Linked DNA regions of Homo sapiens: regions 1, 2 and 3 are each linked to region 4. The links come from fine-mapping of genetic effects on gene expression. A gene starts in region 4. Each other region holds a variant in brackets. All regions are shown on one strand. Distances are from middle to middle.

Region 1 (2,682 bases), 80 kb before region 4:
TCTAGGCCACTAACCATGGAATTGACACAGAGCTCTCTGCAGTTCTAAAGATGGCACCATACGGCCAGATGCGGTGGCTGACACCTGTAATCCCAGCACTTTGGGAGGCCGAGGTGGGTGGATCACCTGAGGTCAGGAGTTCGAGACCAGCCTGGCCAACATAATGAAACCCCATCTCTACTAAAAATACAAACAATTAGCCGGGTGTGGTGGTGCACGCCTGTAATCCCAGCTACTCGGGAGGCCGAGGCAGGAGAATTGCTTGAACCTGGTAGGTGGAGGTTGCAGTGAGCTGAGATCACACCATTGCACTCTAGCCTGGGTGACAAGAGCAAAACTCCATCCAAAAAAAAAAAAAAAAAAAAGGGGGCACCATGCTTGCTGTGCTTTGGCTCAGCCCATCTGTGTCTCTTCATGTGACTTCGCAGTTGATCTTCCTTTGGTTCCAAGAAAGAGGGAACTCGAAGCCTGGGAATCTAGGTCTGTCTAGCAGTCCTGTTTCTCTCTGTTCTGGCCTCAGGATATCTCATGGGTACACAAACCATAGCCCTTTTGGGGCTTGGGAAGAGGGGCAGGTGGGGGATCGGGACATGGGTAAGAGTGAGTCTTTGTGATCTGCCTTTGTTAAGGCTGATGGCCAAAAGGGCAGACACTTGTCGCAGTTTTCTCCTGGGCTCAGACAGTGGGTCAATGTGCCCCATACAGTGACTGCTTAGATAAAAGTGCCTCAGGACCCTGAAAGAAAGCCTGTCTCCAGGAGGCTACAGTGAAAACAGAACAGGCTGTGTAGTCACACATTCCTGGGTTCAAATTCCAAGTTAGTCACTCAGTATTGTGATCTGGTAGTTCCTCTGAGCCTATATATTCCTTCCTAGGGTGGTTTTAGCAATTGAATAAGAGAGGTGCCTGATGTATACTCAGCACTTAAACAAATGCTAGTTCTATCTTCCTGGTTTTAGGTTCCATGCAGTGCAGAGAGCAGGAGCCCCTGGTTCATTTCCTACTTCTCTTCCCTTGCTCACTTGTTCCAGTCTCAAATACAAATGCGCTCCCACTAGGGCGCTGAGTCTTGATGTGCCCTTGGCTGGGATCTTACTGCCACGGTGTCTCCTCGG[G/T]TTCCTTTACCCCACTCAGGCCTCTGCGTAGACATCACCGCCTCAGAGACTCTCCCAGACCAGTGTGTCCAGGGCGGCCTCCCTGTCTTCCATCCTCTCCCCACTCTGTTTTTCTTGAGAGAATTTATTACCCCTGACATCATATTGCCTCTTCCATTAGCACATCAGTTTCACAGAGGCAGGGATTTTGTTTGTTTGTTTTTCTCTTTTTTCCAAGTGTCTATAACAGTCTTAGGTACGTAGTTGGTATTCAATAAACATTTGTTAAAAGATCATACACCAGGAACACTGGGAGGGTGAATTCTGTTTGCTGGTGGAAAAGGATGAGGGGCACAGGTCCCTGCTGCCTGCAGGGACATGTTTTGGCCATTCGGCCCCAAGCAGAATTTCAGCCTTCACTTGTGCCTTTGCCTGGGCACCCTGATGCTTGTCCATCTGTTTGGGGTGACCCTGGAAAGGCGTGCTCTATGGCTGTAGGAGAACCCTAATGCTCCAGGCTCTCCTGCCCAGATCCCTGGATTCAGGGGCCATCTGGTCTCAAAACTCAAATGCTATAGCAAAACCCCCACACTGGGCTGTGCTTTTTATCCTGGGCTTGGGGCATAGTGGGTGGTATGGGGCACAGGACACCGTGACTTCCCGGATCATCCTTTTTACTTAATGGTAATTCACTTGAAGCATCATTGTTACAGAAAATCAACCTCGAATATATCACACCATAGAAAGCATGGTTCCCATCCTTTACAGAAGGTGACACTGAGGACTTTGGAGAAGTTTCACCTTTGGTGGGGTGGGTGAGAGGTGTTGAGCTCTGGAACAGGACCCAGTGTACCTTGGCTTCACAGATCTGCCCTGCTGAGCTGTGGCTTCTTTGCAGGAAATGTTTAGATGCCCTATTAGGGTTTTGTGGGTGGAGGTGTTGGACTGGAAACATTTTCTCATCAAATATGAGCTCCCCTGTGTGTAAGAGCCTCGCTCACAGTAGAAGCTCCATGGCTAGTAGGGAAAGAATGCACCCTAGGAGATGGGCTGGTGGAGGGAACACCTGACTTCGAGTTGGGAGAACTGGGTTCTAGTCCCATCTTTTCTGAGACAGCCACTTCCCTGCGCTGAGCCTCCTACCCCTCCATGGCTGGACTCCATCTGTGAGGTCCCCTCTCAGGAGTTTATGGGCCTTAAAGTCCCAGGAGAAGACCAGTCCTGGCAGAGCTGCACACTGGCCAGACAAAGCATGACTAGCTCCCACCTCTGCTTCATCAGTCCCATGGAGAGAAAGTGGCAAATTCTCTTGCCAGAAACACCTGAGTGCTCCCTGACATCATTTGGCGTTTATAGCTGGCTCTGAGGAGTGGCAGGATGTTCCATTTGCTCACAAAGGCCCTGGGGACCTGTGGGAACTGGAGGTTGTTCAGGGTTGTTAAGGACAGAACAGGTGGAAGGAGAAGAGCCCAGAGGCTGAAGGGAGCCATGCTGTGGGGGCTGGCCAGGTGGGCCAGAGAGGAACTGGGCTTCTCCTCCCAGTCCCTGCCATAGCAGGCAGTTTTATATGGATGTGGTGCGATGTTGC
Region 2 (2,682 bases), 86 kb before region 4:
TGACCCAGAAATTATTCAAGGAATATAATCCAAAGATATCATAATTAAAGTTTACTGAGTACTTTCTCAACCATACACAGCGTTAAAAGTGGCATTGTTTTAAGCACTTATATTTATTAACATATTTAATCCCTAAGACAACCCTATAAAGTAAGTATTAATAGATACTTTTTACTATGAAGAAAATGAGGCATGTGGAGACCAAGTCATGTGAGCAAGGTCTAACAAGGAACAAGTTATGACACTGGGATTGAGATTGGGAAGAACAGCTGCAAGACCCTTGTTCTTAACCCCCAGCTAGCCTGCTTCTTGAAATGATTAGAAATTAACACAACGGTCACCCTGAGCGTGTTCATCATAGTGTGATAATAACAGGAAACAATCTAAATGCTTAACAGCTGGAGATGGGCTAAATAAAATGACTTCCAAATGAGGGCATGCTATATAGATGTTAACAATCACATTGTAAAAGAACATGCAATGACATGGGAAAAAGTTGATGATACATTTTTAAGTGGGAAAAGCTGTTTTCCATATTTGGAAAAGCCCACATATGAAAAAAAAGAGAGATTTGTTATTATTCATACGTGCATTCTGCACCGGACTGTCTGCACCCCCGCCAGGTACCCCCTCCCACTCTCACCCTGCCCAGCACTGGAGCCCATCCTCATACCCCAGTCAATTCAGGGCAGTTGTCCCTATGTCTCTGGATTGAAGTGCTGCATATTTTAACAAAGAAAAGATAACTAGGCTGCAGGGTGGAATTCTATGCCCAAAGCGTCATTGTGTTTCTCCTCAAGTCATTCCAGGAGTACTTTCTGGATAAGACCGATTCTTAGGGAGTGTTGACTATTGGAAACAGTTGGGTAAAGCTCATAGGAAGAATATTCCGGATACTTGCTGCCACTTAAGAGTAGGTATGGCGGAGAGGATGGGTCCCCCAAATGTGTGGGATTCTGGAAAGTGCCTGCAGGGAGGTTGTCCTGCTCCTTGGACATGGAAGGTAGGCCAGCACCCCTGCCCCCTGGGGTCACCAGTTTTACATTGCTAGCAGTTAAGCCCCAGGATGATTCAGAAGCCCCACTGAGATCTTCTTGGCTTTCTGTCCTGTGCTTCACCCCAGCTCTCTATCCATGTTCAGGCAAAGCCCAGAGCTGACTGCTTAGAAAAATATTTAATTGAGATTCCTCCTACAGTGCCTATTTCTGTCTC[G/A]ATAAGGCCTTGGCATGCCATGGGTGGCTAAATATATTGGCTGTTTCCTCTCCAATGCCAACCTAGTTTTTTAAATGTTCCCAAGTGTGTCTGCCCAGCTTTCCCCTGAGAGAGAATTTACAGCATTAGCCCTCTGTGACCTAGAAGAAAAAACAAAACAAAACATAGAAGATGTTAACTTACTTACAGAAGAGAAACCAGGAAATTATACATTTGTGCAGAAGTGTCTTCATTCATGCATTCATTCATTCATTCATTCAGGTCTCTCAAACTCCTCCTGAGTTACTGGCACTGTGCTTAAACATGGGCCACATAGATTGATGGAATTAGACATGATCCCTGTCCTCAAGGTGTTCATAGTCTAGATCTACCTGCAGTACTAAGTGTTAAGTATGGAAGATGCACAAAACAGAGCTGCGAGAAGGGTCTGCAGTGGCCTAGAGGAGGATACTCAGGGAATATTTTCCTAAATAGCAGCATCTCTACCTGTTCTAGTACTTAGGAATTGAGAGAATGGGGAAAGCTAAATAAAGAAATAGCAAGAATATAAAGGCAGATGCCATTTATGAGCATGTTACGTTAGTTTGGGGGCAACAGCTTGGGCATTTTTCCTAGTAGAATTCTTCTGTTGGATGTGATATATGATTCTAAAGTCTTAAGTGCAATTAGTTTTTCTTCTGTATGCTTTTTTTTAAAAATAAAATTTACTAGTGCAGACAAGTGTTTCATAAACATTTTTAGAGTCATAGAACTCTTTTTGCAAACAAAACATCCCAATATTTAAGACCAATAACATCAGAGATGCTGTGGTTGAGGCAGGGGTGGGAGATGCGGAACCAGTTCTGGCCTCCTCCAATCTCTGACCAAGACACCCCAGTGGGATTCCAGGGCTCACTGAGACTGCAGTTGAAACCTACATGTTGAGATGGTGCTTCACACTTCCCAGGCTTTAAGCTAGCACCTCAGTGATCTCTCTTCACCTCCCTTTGGGCCTGTGACTGTTTCCTGCCTCCAGGAGGAGTCTGCAGTTGCTGCTTGATAGCTCTGATGGAGGCTTGTAGCAGGTGGTCTTGGAATGCTTGGGATCACCAAGCCTTGGGAGTAGTCAAGTCGTGGTTCCTTTGATGGAAAAAAGTGGGCTATCATCTGAAAGCAGGAGTGTTGGCAGCCAAGAGGATGAGCACAGTCCGGTGGCACATTACAAATGACTCTGGCCCCATTACTCATTAGGTCCCCCTGGAAGATGTTCTAGGGTGAACAGTCCTCATTTTCCCATCTCCATGGCTGGATAACCTCTCAGTTCATAGATCCCTGCAGACACTTCCTTTCAACATGCCAAGGCCTTTAACATCTCAAATGGGCTTTACTCTTTTCAATGTCAAGTAAGGCAAAGCAGCGAATGGTCTTTCCATTTTATAGGTGGGGAAACTGAGGCCTAGTGTAGTTGGCTCTTTCACAAAAGAATACCGA
Region 3 (2,682 bases), 72 kb before region 4:
CATGAAGGGGATTCAGGGGGATTTAGGCAAGCTCTCCTCCTAGGCCCAGGAGAAGGTGTTCTAGTGGCCCTGCAGGTCTTTCTGTGTACCCATCTTCCTCTTCCTTTCCCCTTCCCCTCCCCTCTCTTCCCCATCCCCTTCCCCTCCCCTCTCTTCCCCATCCCCTTCCCCTCCCCTCTCTTCCCCATCACCTTCCCCTCCCCTCTCTTCCCCATCCCTTTCGCCTCCCTTCCCATTCCCCTTCCCCTTCCTTCTCCCTTCCCCCTCCCCTCCCCCTCCCCTCTCCTCCCTCTGTCCTCCCCCTCCCCTCCCCTCCCCTCCCCCTCCCTCCCCCTCCCCTCTCCTCCCTTCTCTCCATCTCACTGAACCAGGGGGTAGGAAACTTTTCTCATCTCTCTTCTGCTTCCCTCCCACGTTCATCCACCTCTTCTCAGTCAAGAATAACTCTTTCCTTCTCTCAAACTTGCTTGGTTTTGTTGGCTTGGGAGAAAAGAGTTTCTCCAACCCTTAGTTTTCCTGCACTTCCAGCCCTCTGCCTTCATGGATGAATAAATTCAACACATTTTCTGCAGCGGCTACTGGGGCAGCTTCCATTTTGAAAAAGTGTATCAGGCCTCAATATTAGATTTGGAGACAATTCCAGTTTGTCCCAAGGACTTGTTCATTTTGTTTTATTGAATTTGCTTAGGGATATGACCTTTTAAAGGTCCTGTGGGTAGATTTATGCCAAAACATACACCATTCAGGGACTCATGAAACCATCTGGGGAATATCTGGATGAAAAAGAAAGGCATTTGTTAACATTGTTCTGCCAAGGTGGAGAGCAAATGGAGATCTAGTTAAAACTAAAATACGGCCAGAGAGTTGATTATCTTTTCCCCTAGATGGACCATCGTTCTATCTCCAGCTCAACTTTTCCCTTCCTGGAATAGAGAGAGGCTGACTTCCACTACATGGTCATCCAGCCCACCCAGGAGAGTGCATCCAGTAAGGCTGCTTGTTTCAGAAAGAAGCACACTTGCTCTCCTATGCCTGGACCCTGGGCCAGAGTTACTCTTATTTTTCCCCCGGTGTACTTTGGAGACATTTTGAGAGCCTGATTATTTTTTAATTTCTTTTAACTTTTCTTTTTTTCTTTTTTCTAATAGAAACAGGATTTTGCTATGTTGCCTGGGCTGGTCTCCAACTCCTAGGCTCAAGCGAAACTCCCTCCTCTGTCTCACAAAGTGCTGGAATTCTAGGCATGAGCCACCGGGCCTGGACTAAGCCTGATGATTTCTTATTCTATGAGGTCATA[T/G]AATGGGAGCCTTTGGGTGAGCAAGACTTCTCTGGGGTCAGAATACCCAGAGCCCAGCCCCTATTCAAGTTAACCCTTCTTTCCTTTTTCTCTTCCTTCAACAACTGTTTTGTTGTTGTTGTTGTTGTTGTTGTTTTTGAGACGGAGTCTCACTCTGTCGCCCAGGCTGGAGTGCAGTGGTGTGATCTCGGCTCACTGCAACCTCTGCCTCCTGGTTAAAGCGATTCTCCTGCCTCAGCCTCCCGAGTAGCTGGGACTACAGGAGCATGCCACCATGCCTGGCTAATTTTTTGTGTTTTTAGTAGAGATGGGGTTTCACCGTGTTAGCCAGGATGGTCTCAATCTCCTGACCTTGTGATCTGCCCACCTCGGCCTCCTAAAGTGCTGGGATTACAGGCGTGAGCCACTGCACCTGGCCTCAGCAACTGTTTTTGATGCTATGTTCCCTGCATGGTGCTAGATGCCAAGGATGCAATGATAAATAAGAAAGTTAGATTCTTGCCTCAATGGAACATGCTGTCTGGTGAAAGAGGTAGAAGCAAAGCACCAAGTTGGTGTAGTGTGGCAAGTGCAGCAAGAGCCATCTGAAAACTTTCTGATATCACGTTTTGTCCTTTGCCATTAAAAGCTTCATTTTGCCCGGTGTGGTGGCTCACGCCTGTAATCCCAGCACTTTGGGAGGCCGAGGCGGGCGGATCACAAGGTTAGGAGATGGAGACCATCCTGGATAACATGGTGAAACCCCATCTCTACTAAAAATACAAAAAATTAGCTGGGCATGGTGGCAGGCGCCTGTAGTCCCAGCGACTCGGGAGGCTGAGGCAGGAGAACGGCATGAACCCGGGAGGTAGAGCTTGCAGTAAGCCGAGATGGCGCCACTGCACTCCAGCCTGGGCGACAGAGTAAGACTCCGTCTCAAAAAAAAAAAAAAAAAAAAAAAGCTTCATTTTAGACTGGGCGCGTGGTGGCTTACGCCTGTAGTCCCAGCATTTTGGGAGGCTGAGGAGGGCGGATCGCCTGAGATCAGGAGTTCGAGACCAGCATGGAGAAACCCTGTCTCTACCAAAAATACAAAATTAGCCAGGCATGGTGGCACATGCCTGTAATCCCACCTACTTGGGAGGCTGAGGCAGGAGACTCCCTTGAACCCTGGAGGTGGAGGTTGCAGTGAGCCGAGATGGTGCCATTGCACTCCAGCCTGGGCAACAATAGTGAAACTCTGTCTCAAAAGAAAAAGAAGAAGAAGAAAAAAAAGACTTCAATTCTGACACTTTCATTGGAATTGGAATGGGGCTGGGAGTGGGAACCGGGGCCATCTTGCTGCCCCCAGGGAGAACAGGTCTGAGGTGGAGCCAAGCAGAGTGAGCAGAACTGAGATGAGCAGA
Region 4 (2,653 bases):
TTTATCTTACCAAAGTCTTTCCCGATAACTCTTCCCAGCTTGGCGTCTTAAGACCAGGTACTTGCCTTCCTGGAGGCATCTAGGTCACCTTCAGAGCCAGGTGGCCATTGGGTTAACTAGCTGTTGAACTGAATCAAACAGGCTCTGAGCCTTGAAGTCAGAAAGAGCCAGAGTGGAGGGGTCTGGGGGGAAGAGGGGCGCTGAGGTATAGGGAGATGAAACCTGCGGTGGAGGCAGCTTAATGGTCCACCTGTCACCCAAGGAATCTCTCTGACAGGGGTCTTTGTTAGGGTCACACCCCAGGAGATGGTTGATTATGGCTGAGTCCAGCCTGGAATGATGGGGGTTGGGGGCAGCTTGGGTAGATGACTCAGTAAATCAAACAGAACAATGAAAGGAGGTCATGCTTGTCCATCTGCATTATTGAAGACAGCCATAAATGGCCTTACCCCAGAGCGGGTCTGTCACACCTGGAGAGCTGATCTGACCTCTCCAAGACCCCTGCAACTGAGTGTTCTGGGATCTGTCCTGCAACAAGTGCCTCGAGATTTGTAGGTGGGGGCCCAGGGTGCTAAGGGATTATTTTAGCGGGCGGAGAAGGGAGGGGGTCTGCAGACGAAGGGGGCAGGTTTTGCGGGGCACTTAGGGTTCTCATAGGTTGTAGTCACGAGCTCCCAGGTTTGGAAAACTGCAATAGTCACTAAGACCATTCGGGGCTGTTTGGGTCTAGCTTGGTCTAGACGGGTCTGAAACTCCGCAGGACCCACCCAACAAGAAGTCATTGTTCCAAGCCACGTGTCAGTGGTGGGTGATACCCCAGGATGGAAGGAGTTGGTATGAGCCGACTGAAATCTACTTGAAGGTCAAAACGGAGCCTTATGTCTTTTGTGTTCCCCAGCGGTTAGCCCAGTGCCGGCCACAGGGGAAGCGCGCAAACGAAGTCCTCGCGAACTGAACTGAGAGCAGACAAAAGCACGCGCTCTTCTCCACCGCCACGCCGGTCCTACCCAAACCCGCGAGTTATCCGTATTCTCCTTCAGGAGTCATAGTCAGGCCAGAAGAGTGCGGAGGGACGGGGCCCGGGAAGAGCAGGGAACCCCCAGAGCCCGCAGCCAACGCGGAGGTGGGCGAGCGGGCGTGCGCGCACTCACTTGCCGGCGCGAGGGAGTGTCGGGGGGGAAGGGAGTGGTCTCCAAAAGGGGGAGGGGAGAAGGCAGGGGGCGGGGAGAAGCCGGCCCTTTAGGACCCGGCTGCGGCGGCGAGGGAGGAGGAAGAAGCGGAGGAGGCGGCTCCCGCGCTCGCAGGGCCGTGCCACCTGCCCGCCCGCCCGCTCGCTCGCTCGCCCGCCGCGCCGCGCTGCCGACCGCCAGCATGCTGCCGAGAGTGGGCTGCCCCGCGCTGCCGCTGCCGCCGCCGCCGCTGCTGCCGCTGCTGCTGCTGCTACTGGGCGCGAGTGGCGGCGGCGGCGGGGCGCGCGCGGAGGTGCTGTTCCGCTGCCCGCCCTGCACACCCGAGCGCCTGGCCGCCTGCGGGCCCCCGCCGGTTGCGCCGCCCGCCGCGGTGGCCGCAGTGGCCGGAGGCGCCCGCATGCCATGCGCGGAGCTCGTCCGGGAGCCGGGCTGCGGCTGCTGCTCGGTGTGCGCCCGGCTGGAGGGCGAGGCGTGCGGCGTCTACACCCCGCGCTGCGGCCAGGGGCTGCGCTGCTATCCCCACCCGGGCTCCGAGCTGCCCCTGCAGGCGCTGGTCATGGGCGAGGGCACTTGTGAGAAGCGCCGGGACGCCGAGTATGGCGCCAGCCCGGAGCAGGTTGCAGGTAACGCGGTCTGGAACAAGTAGTTGGGAGAAACTTGGAGGGCAGCGGAGAAGCCCGACGGGCGGCTGGACCTTACGGACGGTTTTAGGGGCGGCAGAGCCGAGACCTTGGACCAAATCAAGGGGGACTGTTGCTAGCGGGACGCGGAAGTCAGGCCCGGGGAGGGGAACTGGAGTTAGAGCAAGTGGAAGAGCCCTGGCGACTCATTTGGTGGGGATGAATGGGGAGAGGAAAGGCATCCCTGCTGCCATAGTTTTACCCGCGTGGAACGGACCCAGACTTCTATTCTGGAGGAGGGATTTGCTGAGAAGGGGGCCGGTGGTCAGATCCATGGGAGTAGGAACTCGAATCTTATTTGGGGCACTGCTTGAGGACCCAAGGGTCCTGGTGGGATCGCTGCTGGGAGGCGGAGGCTGCGGGGTGCCAGTGACACCAGGAACCTTGGAAGAGGAGAGGGAGCTAGGAGGAGGCACCGGCGTCCCAAGGGGCCCTTCCTTCTACTGGGGTTGTGAGTTGGAAAGAAAGGACTTGGTACTTTGTAGGATGAGTCGCTTAGGAGAAAAATGAAAACCACCACTACTATTTCTCCATAGGGAACGAGCAGGGCTCTTGCTACCACGTTGAATGGAAAAATAAAAGGGAGGCATTTGGTAGGCGAGGGGTCTCCTAGCAGCTGAATCAATGTAACTTAAGCCCGATCGCCGGCTGCATTCCCTGGACGGGGGCAGCCAGGCTGTGCGGTTTCGCATCTGGGCCCCAGATCGAAAGGCAGGAGAGATGCGTTGCCACCCCCCACCCCCGCCCCTATCTTAAATTGAGGGACCCTTTCCTGTAGGATAG

The links. PIP is the estimated chance that this variant, and not a neighbour inherited with it, causes the effect. A credible set is the group of variants that fine-mapping cannot tell apart.
Region 1: its variant is the best candidate, but not a certain one, in a credible set for the expression of IGFBP2 in damaged cartilage (Steinberg 2020, PIP 0.53).
Region 2: its variant is the best candidate, but not a certain one, in a credible set for the expression of IGFBP2 in atrial appendage (GTEx, PIP 0.58).
Region 3: its variant is the best candidate, but not a certain one, in a credible set for the expression of IGFBP2 in unexposed skin (GTEx, PIP 0.68).

What each region holds. Positions count from the first base shown.
Region 1 is chr2:216,552,482-216,555,163 of GRCh38, forward strand. It overlaps LOC101928180 (a long non-coding RNA gene), which reads left to right and starts at 1,571. Exons shown (of 2, transcript XR_427226.4): 1 at 1,571-2,682. RefSeq lists an enhancer at 451-962. The variant G/T (reference allele first, on the strand shown) is at 1,116.
Region 2 is chr2:216,546,047-216,548,728 of GRCh38, forward strand. No RefSeq gene overlaps it. Among named protein-coding and RNA genes, the nearest start is that of RPL37A, 49 kb to the left of the region's middle. The variant G/A (reference allele first, on the strand shown) is at 1,213.
Region 3 is chr2:216,559,917-216,562,598 of GRCh38, forward strand. All of the region lies in intron 1 of LOC101928180 (a long non-coding RNA gene), which reads left to right. All of the region lies in intron 2 of LOC105373871 (a long non-coding RNA gene), which reads right to left. Among named protein-coding and RNA genes, the nearest start is that of LINC01280, 46 kb to the right of the region's middle. The variant T/G (reference allele first, on the strand shown) is at 1,298.
Region 4 is chr2:216,632,153-216,634,805 of GRCh38, forward strand. It overlaps IGFBP2 (insulin like growth factor binding protein 2), which reads left to right and starts at 1,268. Exons shown (of 4, transcript NM_000597.3): 1 at 1,268-1,813. The coding sequence starts at 1,372.